Homo sapiens: one gene and its partner. The protein of the gene in region 2 interacts with the protein of the main gene of each other region in a biochemical or structural test. Each region holds a gene or a part of one and is shown on either strand. Other genes may lie near its edges.

Evidence for each region.
Region 1: the proteins of FLRT3 (region 2) and UNC5B form a complex in vitro, tested with the Homo sapiens proteins (one study listed by BioGRID).

What each region holds. Positions count from the first base shown.
Region 1 is NC_000010.11:71,210,713-71,214,627, reverse strand, and holds the start of UNC5B (netrin receptor UNC5B isoform 1 precursor), read right to left. Parts: upstream 2,059-3,915; 5' UTR 1,643-2,058; coding exon 1,564-1,642; intron 1-1,563. UniProt on the Homo sapiens protein: Receptor for netrin required for axon guidance. Mediates axon repulsion of neuronal growth cones in the developing nervous system upon ligand binding.
Region 2 is NC_000020.11:14,336,116-14,340,030, forward strand, and holds the start of FLRT3 (leucine-rich repeat transmembrane protein FLRT3 precursor), read right to left. Parts: upstream 1,498-3,915; 5' UTR 1,289-1,497; intron 1-1,288. UniProt on the Homo sapiens protein: Functions in cell-cell adhesion, cell migration and axon guidance, exerting an attractive or repulsive role depending on its interaction partners. Plays a role in the spatial organization of brain neurons. Plays a role in vascular development in the retina.

The DNA of each region.
Region 1 (3,915 bases), on a different chromosome or scaffold from region 2:
TGCCCATGTGCCATTTACAGAGACTTCACCCTACCCTTCAATCATCTCCTCAAACCCCCTCCAACCAGAAACCAGCACCCCAACCAAGCACCTCCCACGTCTAACTGCACCCTTTAAAACAAGGTTGGACATTCAGCAGCCTGCCTTCCCCATCCCCATCATTACCTTCCAACTTCAAAACACTGCTTTAAATACCAGAGTCTGCCCAAATCATAATTAACTTGGATCAAATGGTTGAGTGTTGTAACTCTACTGCACAGGACTTGCACCAGAAAAAAAAAAAAAAGTGGGGAATGTGCTAAAGCCAAGCCCTCACTCCTGGCCGTGGGAATCACTAATTCCAGAATGAGGAATCTTTGGCTATGGAGGGGGGAAGGGCGGATGTCAACTTCGCAGCAGGAGGTAGGAGGTGGGGAGGGCTGCGTCATCTCGTCCACTTTCTGCTCCAGTTTTCCTGCTCCATTCTCAGCCTCAACTCAGAGAGGACTCCGTGCAGGAGGCCCCGTCCCCACCTGGCTCCGGAGCCGAGCCGCCCGGCAGCCGTGGCCAGCCCACTTGCTTGGGTTCGGGTACCAGAGAGAGGCTGGCTCCATTCAGTCCACAGCCTCCCCGAGAAGACGCAGCCCAGCCAGCGACGCCGGGTCCAGCTACAGGACGAGCGAGAAACGTATTCATCCACGGCGAGAGAGGAGGGTTAGGGACTTTATTTCGGAGCCCACCAGTTCGCTGAAGTCATCTTGGTGGGTCCAGAGCGGGCGCTGTACCAAGGAGAGCGCACCTAGTCTGTTCCCCGGACAGCGAGAATGTCAGTGACCAATTTAAAAGGAAACTCCGCAGGATCGCTAAGAACCCCTACCCGCATCCAACACACACACACACACACACACACACACACACACTCTCCAACACTCAGAAAATTAATAATAATAATAATAATAATAATAATAATAATTCTTCCAGACCTGCGGGCCCAGCGATCTCGGGGAAAGCTATGTGTGCAAGACTTAGCCCTCCCCGCTTCAGGAGCCCTGCAAGCCGGCCTGCCGAGGCTACCGAAGCGCTTCCTGTGTTCAGCAGGTCTTTTCGCTCTCTCCCTCTAGTCTGCAGATTGCTGTCCCTATAGCGCGTAAGAGCCTAGGCGAGCCGGGACCAGACTAGTAAGTTACCGGCGTACGGCAGCGAGCGCACACCTTGCTTATGTAGCCAATGTTCTTTTTCGGGGCGGATGCCAGGCGCGCGGAGAGCCGGGCGTCCCCAGGAGGCGGATCCTCCCGGAGACTCAGACCCTGACTCCTACACCCCTTCCAGGGAGAAGAAGGGATCCCTTTCAGGAGCGAGCAGGGACCTTTCAGCTTACTGTGAAGCCCCTTCCCTGCTCCCCGCTCCCGCGATGTGGATGCGCCATTGCCCACTTTGGGAGGCAGTAAAATCTACATTCTAACTTGGGCGCCCTTGCCGCTTTTCCTGCGCGCATCGATGCGACGAAAGACCACCTCAACTTCAGGACAGAGTGAGGCGCAAGGGTCCCCTAGCCCCGCGCCCCCAGACCCGATCGCTTCCTACCTGCTTGGCTCAGCCTCGGGTCCCAGCAGAGCAGCAGTGCCAGCAGCAGCGCGCCCCGAGCTCCGCTCCGGGCCCCCATGCTCCCGCGGCCTGGTTCGGGCGCCTCTCCCCCAGGGCTGTCTCCCTGGCCCCAGTCTCGCCGCCGCCGTCTCCGCCGCCGCCGCCTCCTCCTCGCCGTCCTCCCCGGCGCCCGGCAGCGCCAGCCCGTGCCTTCCGTGGGGGCAGCGGAAGCCACGCTGCGCGGAGGGCCGCCTGGCACTCGGAGCGCGGTGGGTGCCTGGCGCCGGCTCTCGAACGAGGCTCCGGCGCGCCCCTCTGGCTCCGGGTCTCTGAGCGCTCGCCTGGCTCCGGCGCTGTGCCTCCGAAGTTGCGCGACCGCTCAGTGGCGCTCGCAGCGGCGGCGCCGCGCAGTCCCAGCCCCAGTGCGCGCCTCTCGGAGCCCCGCGGCTGCGTGCGGCTCCGGCGCCCTAGCCGGCCCCAGCCGCCTGCCACAATGCCGAGCGCCGCCGCTCGCTCGCCGGAGTGAGTTCGCCAACCGAGGGGACCGCGCGCGGCCGGGGCGGGGCCTGGGCGACCGAGGGCGGAGCCGACAGGGGGACCTTGAGGGGGGATCCGACGGCCATCTGGGCGCGGCCGCGGCAGAGCTGGGGGACCCGGGGGGAGGGTCCTCGCGAGACGCTGGGCGCAGCGTTTTGAAAAACCCGGCCGCTGGAGAATGGCTGGACGTGGAGGCGGCCCAATTTTCGCTCCCCCAAATTAAGGAAATCTGGCTTTGCGCCTTCATTTGGCTTGGCCATGTCAGCTTTCTCCTCTGATTAAACATAGGACTCTCACTTTTGGCTCCCCTGTCTGTAGTATGCGCTCTGCCTTCCACATGTGGGGGTCTTTCCAAAAAAAAGGCTCCCAAAATGAGAACACCCAAGTCCTGGTTACGCGGGGGCTTACAGCGATATGAAGCTGGGTATAGATTAGGATCATCCTGGCTGGCTCTGCTTGTCTGTATGATCTCCGGCAGAACTGTTAACCAGACCCCTGGAAACCCCTCCAGCACTCTGATCCTGCGTTGTTGTAAACTAGCCTCCTACCTGACAGTGGGACAGCCATTTTTGGCTCAGTGTAAACTTGGACTCTGCCCCTTATTTACTGTGTGACCTTGAACAAGTTACTTAACAATTCTATTGCTCCCTTCATCATCATCTGTAAAATGGAGGAAAAGGATAACTATTTCATAAGGGGGTATAGAATTAAATTTTAAAACTTGTGTGGAAATTGCAGTGCAAGTGTCAATAATCTCTTTCCAAGATTCTCCCCTCCCAGCCAGTCTGATTCCAGGGGGAAAGTCCTGACCACCCAAAGGTGGTCCAAGGAGCACGTGGGGACAGGTGAGGTTTGAAGGATGGGCAGTGTCTTGGGATTGAAACCCAGAGAGATCAGAACGAGCGGATCAGCTAACATAGGCAAAGACCTTCCCTGTGCCAGGCACAGGGCTAAGCACTCTGTATGCATCATGTCAGTTAATTCTCACAACCCTCTGAAGTAAGCACCATTTACATCCCATTTTACAGATGAAGGACCTGAGGCACAGAGGTGTAAAGCCACCTGCCGGAGATCACACTGCTTGGAGTGACTGAGTGACTGAGCAAAGGGGATGGGGGAGATGGGATTGGAAAGAAACCCTCTAAACGGGGGAGCCTCACTTGAACACCTTCCCTGGGGCTGGATTGGGCTGTGCGAAGGGGACTGTCCTAGCTGTTTCCCCAGAGGTGAGGTGAAGGCAGGACTAGTACCCTCTCCACACACACTCCCCTCACAAGCCGGGGTCTTGGAGTATCTAGGGGAGGTCGTGCATGCCATCAGCACATCTCCCTAACCCTCTCTGACTGGGCACCCAGCATCAGGAGGGTGGCAACAGGTGGACTGGGACTCCCTGGGGGAAGAACTTCCATCAATTGAGAAAGGCTGCTGTGGGCAAAGGTAGGTTGCTTAGCTTGGCCTCTGACAGCCCTAGCAAGGGCAGTGGATGAGACAGTCAACAGCTCAGCACACCCAAACCAACTCCACCTTGCAAATACACATGCACACACACAACTACCCACCCATACACACCTGCAAAGGTACACACACGAAAACATACAACAAAGACAACAGGTGCAATGTTTCACCTCCCATAAACATCACACCTACAAATAGGCACCCGACTCCAGAGACACCCACATACCAAAGATGTATGCCTAAAAAAAGCAAACACACAGGCGCACACAACTAAAAACACAAATAGGCAGATGACTCCCAAGACAAATAGATATTTGGATACTTAACTACTGCCAGGAAACACATACAGGCACGCCTGTG
Region 2 (3,915 bases):
GGTCAGGATATTTTTATGCAGTCAGAGATAAATGAAAGGCATTGCTACAGCTGAAGGACTTTTCTAGTGGCTTTATTTATGTTGTTTCTGGATAATAAAATAACATAGATGAGCATTTTAGACAGATTTATTAATAGACAGATTTATTAAGAATGTTTAAAATAGCCTTATTATTAAAACCATTAGAGATTTTGGACTAAAAATTGAAAAAAAAATCAATTTTTTTTCTTTTAAATTCTAAATAAAATAATAAAAACAAACCCCCCAGATGTTGAGAAGACATGGATGGGCCTGTTGCACTCTTTACCTATATGCAACCATTTTGTTTCAGACCTAATTCAGTGAACAAAATTTTTTGAGAAGATACATTTAACTACTTTTTCAAGCTTTGTAGTATAAATGCATTTCTTCCAATATAAGATTTTCCTATTATAAGTTGCAAAGAATGGATCCTCTGCAAAACCCACTTGATAAGGGCTCTACTCATTTATTTTTCTTTCCTGCTACCCCAAACTCACTGCATACATCAGGCATAGCTTCCAGGGTGAGCTTTGTTAGTTTTTCTGAGTAGACTTAGCCATTTACTATGCTAGTCACATACTTCACTTGCCTAAGCAATGGATTTTGGTGTTCTATTGAAGAGGGAATATGGTTTGGAAGAGTGTCTCCCCCTCCTCTGAGTTCAATTTACTAGTTGAGATTTGCAAGCCTGAAATGCTTGAAGCAGCTCAGGCACGATAGCAGTGCAAGCTTTAAAATCTAGGTGTAGCTGTTAATCCTTTACAGAGGCACATAAGTCTCCAGGAGTAGCTCGGCTAGCTGTGAGCAAGATGTATGCTTTTCATGTACTGCGTACTCATGGGCTGAGGGATTATTGATTTTCTTTCACAGTTGTAAAAACAGCAATTGGTGATCATCCCACACGTACAGTACACACCAAGTTGCTTTCCTATCTGTGAAGAATCTCCTTGTATTCTTTAATATTTAACATTGAACTTTCCAACTTGCTGTTTTCCATAAGGCTCTTTTCACATAGCAATTACTCAAGACAGAAAATAGCCACTTACTATCTTTTATAAATGAAAGAAGGTTCTAAGAAACTTCTTACATTCAGCCATGATAGTGAAATTTTTCATTGCTGGCTTGCACGCACATATATTGCTTGTTGTGGTGACAGAGCAAACGTTCCTATTTGGATTTCTCATAGTATCAAGTCGTTTCTTTCTAGAGAGTAAAACCAAGCAAACTTTCTGGGACAATCATAAGAAAAAACATGGAAAACACTTACCAGGAAGACGAGAAAAAGCAATCCTATATACACTGCCGCTATAGCTGTAATTCCATTGACAGTGAATTGGAGTAATAGCCCTCCCCCGTCTCCCAAGCTCTGCGTCCAGTCCACACAAAGCCCACGGCAGCTGCAGGCTGAGCTTGTCCTGCTTCAGATCACTCCTACACTGAGGAGTGAGCGAGGGAGAGCATTCCAGTTTACTGCACACAGCCCACCTCCAAGTCTGAAGTTTAAAGCTTCACCTCGCAGTGGCTGAAGAAGGGGGTGATGTCATAGATGGGCAGGACTTAGCCAAGATCTTGTTCAGTGAGGTAACTGGATAATCAGACAGATGAGCTTTGCAAACGCTAGAGGGGGCGAGAGCAGCCAAAATGAAGCATCAGCCTGCCAAAGCTAGGATGCCATTTGGTTTGTAGGCAGCCCTTTGGAATCTCAACATTTTCTAAAGTTTACTACAAGGCAGTGGTAGCATACTTATGTATTTTTTTTAAAAAGCATGTTAGAAAGATATTTTTAAGATCACAATAGAAAAAGACAGGCTTTGTCTTATTTTTAAACCATCTGTATTGAAAAGAAGTTAACCAAAATCAAATTAGTTTTATTATTCACTAGCTAAAATAATGTTATAATTGTGGAAGATGTATGCCAGTAATCCCAACTGTGAATGTTTATTCAACATATGAATAAACAGCAGATTCAAATATATACATCAGGGCTGGGTGTGGTGGCTCACGCCTCTAATTCCGGCACTTTGGGAGGCCGAGGTGGGAGGATCACCTGAGGTCAGGAGTTCGAGACCAGCCTGACCAACATGTAGAAAAAATTAGCTGGGCGCCCGTAATCCCAGCTGTTTGGGAGGCTGAGGCAGGAGAATCACTTGAACCCGGGAGGCAGAGGTTGCAGTGAGCCAAGATTGCACCATTGCACTCCAGCCTGGGCAACAAGAACGAAACTCCATCTCCAATATATGTATATATATACACGTGTCACTGATTCATTTAGTTATGGGAAGGGCAATAGGAATGCCAAAAGATTTTTTTAAATGGTATTAAATGGTCTGTTCTTTTGGAGGCGAAGAAGTTACTGTTCTCTATGTTTTAGAAAATGAAAGTATGTTTTATGTACTTCTGCTACGTGTTTATATTATTTAAAATGGATTATTTATATTTAACGATCCCCCAATAAAATGTTTTTAAAAAATTTAATAGAATATTTTCCTTTCTAAATGTTTTTGCTGATCTGAGCATGGGTTTAGATATAAACATCTTAAGAAAAAAATCTTTCAGGGTGGTTTGCCTGGATTGAAATTATTTTAGTTTAATTTAGGTACATGAATAAACACTGGACAATTGTAAGACGTGGAGATTATAAATTTCTATGCCTAATTAACAGAATTATACTTGTATTTTTAATTATGATTTTTGTAGACTGGTTTCTGCTATTTGGTCAACAATTGCTTTGTGCCCGTAAGTTTTCCATCAAATAAGTGTATTTCACTTGTTCATGTTGGTGGTAAGAACTTAGCTTTTATATTTACCTGGAGGACCGTTGTCTTAAACTAATATCTTTATTTGCTCTATTCTTAGAGGTGCATGACCTTCTCCTTTGTCCTTTCTCAATTTTTCCCTGCATGTTTATTTCTGAAGAAGGCCAGCTAATAGTCTTTCCCAGGACTATTTGATTGTGGTCTCTTCATTAGCTTCATTTAGTTTATCTATTTATATATTTGTTTGATAACAGTTTGACCTGAGTTCCCTTCCAAGAATGGGTGATATCAAAGTAGGTGAACCCTTGATAAGAAATGTATTGACCCTATTGTTCTATGATTGCACTTTTGTGGGCCTCAGAGGACAGACCCATTAAATCTAGGAGTTTTAGATTCTAATGTCCATTGAAAAGCCAATTTCTTTGAACTGCTAGGTAGTACAATTAAACTGATATGCAGCAGCTGAATTTTGGGAGGAAAGGGAGGTGGATATTTTTCTGTTACTATGAAACAAAGACATGGATTAAATTATTTTATTAAATAATTATTTCTAGAAGCCATTTTCAGATAGGAGTTGGTTCTGTTTAAAAAAGAAAATTTTTGCCTGGTCAAATTCCTGTGGGTTTATAGCCATATTTAATCAGTTTCGTCTTCATTCAGGCAGGCCTTAAACAGAAAAGAAAAATCAATTGGTGAATTGGGTTATAGGTATCAAAAATAAATTGTACTGGCCTGGGAGTTAGCAGTTTGGAGGTTTCCCTTCTCTGGGCTGCCATTGTTATATGACTTCATATTTGTTGCCCTAGGCTTTGGTTTCATCACTTGACAAATAAAGGCAGCAAGGATTTATTAAATGCCAATTATTTTTTGTTGCTTTTTTTCCCCTTTTAAGCTATGGATTAAAATATGGGAAAAGAAAAGAAATTGTGAAAATATATTCTATACTGGGGTACTGACTTTGGGGGCAAACTCTTAGTAGAATCTGTGGCCTCCTATTCTGTCCAAAAATATATACTCTTTTGCTGCATACATAGTTTTTCACTTCCCGCTCTTATCAGCTACCTGAAATGCTACTAGTTGAAGGTGAATTTATAATAATGTGTGCCCCCTTTGAAATAGTATGTACAATCTCTGGAAA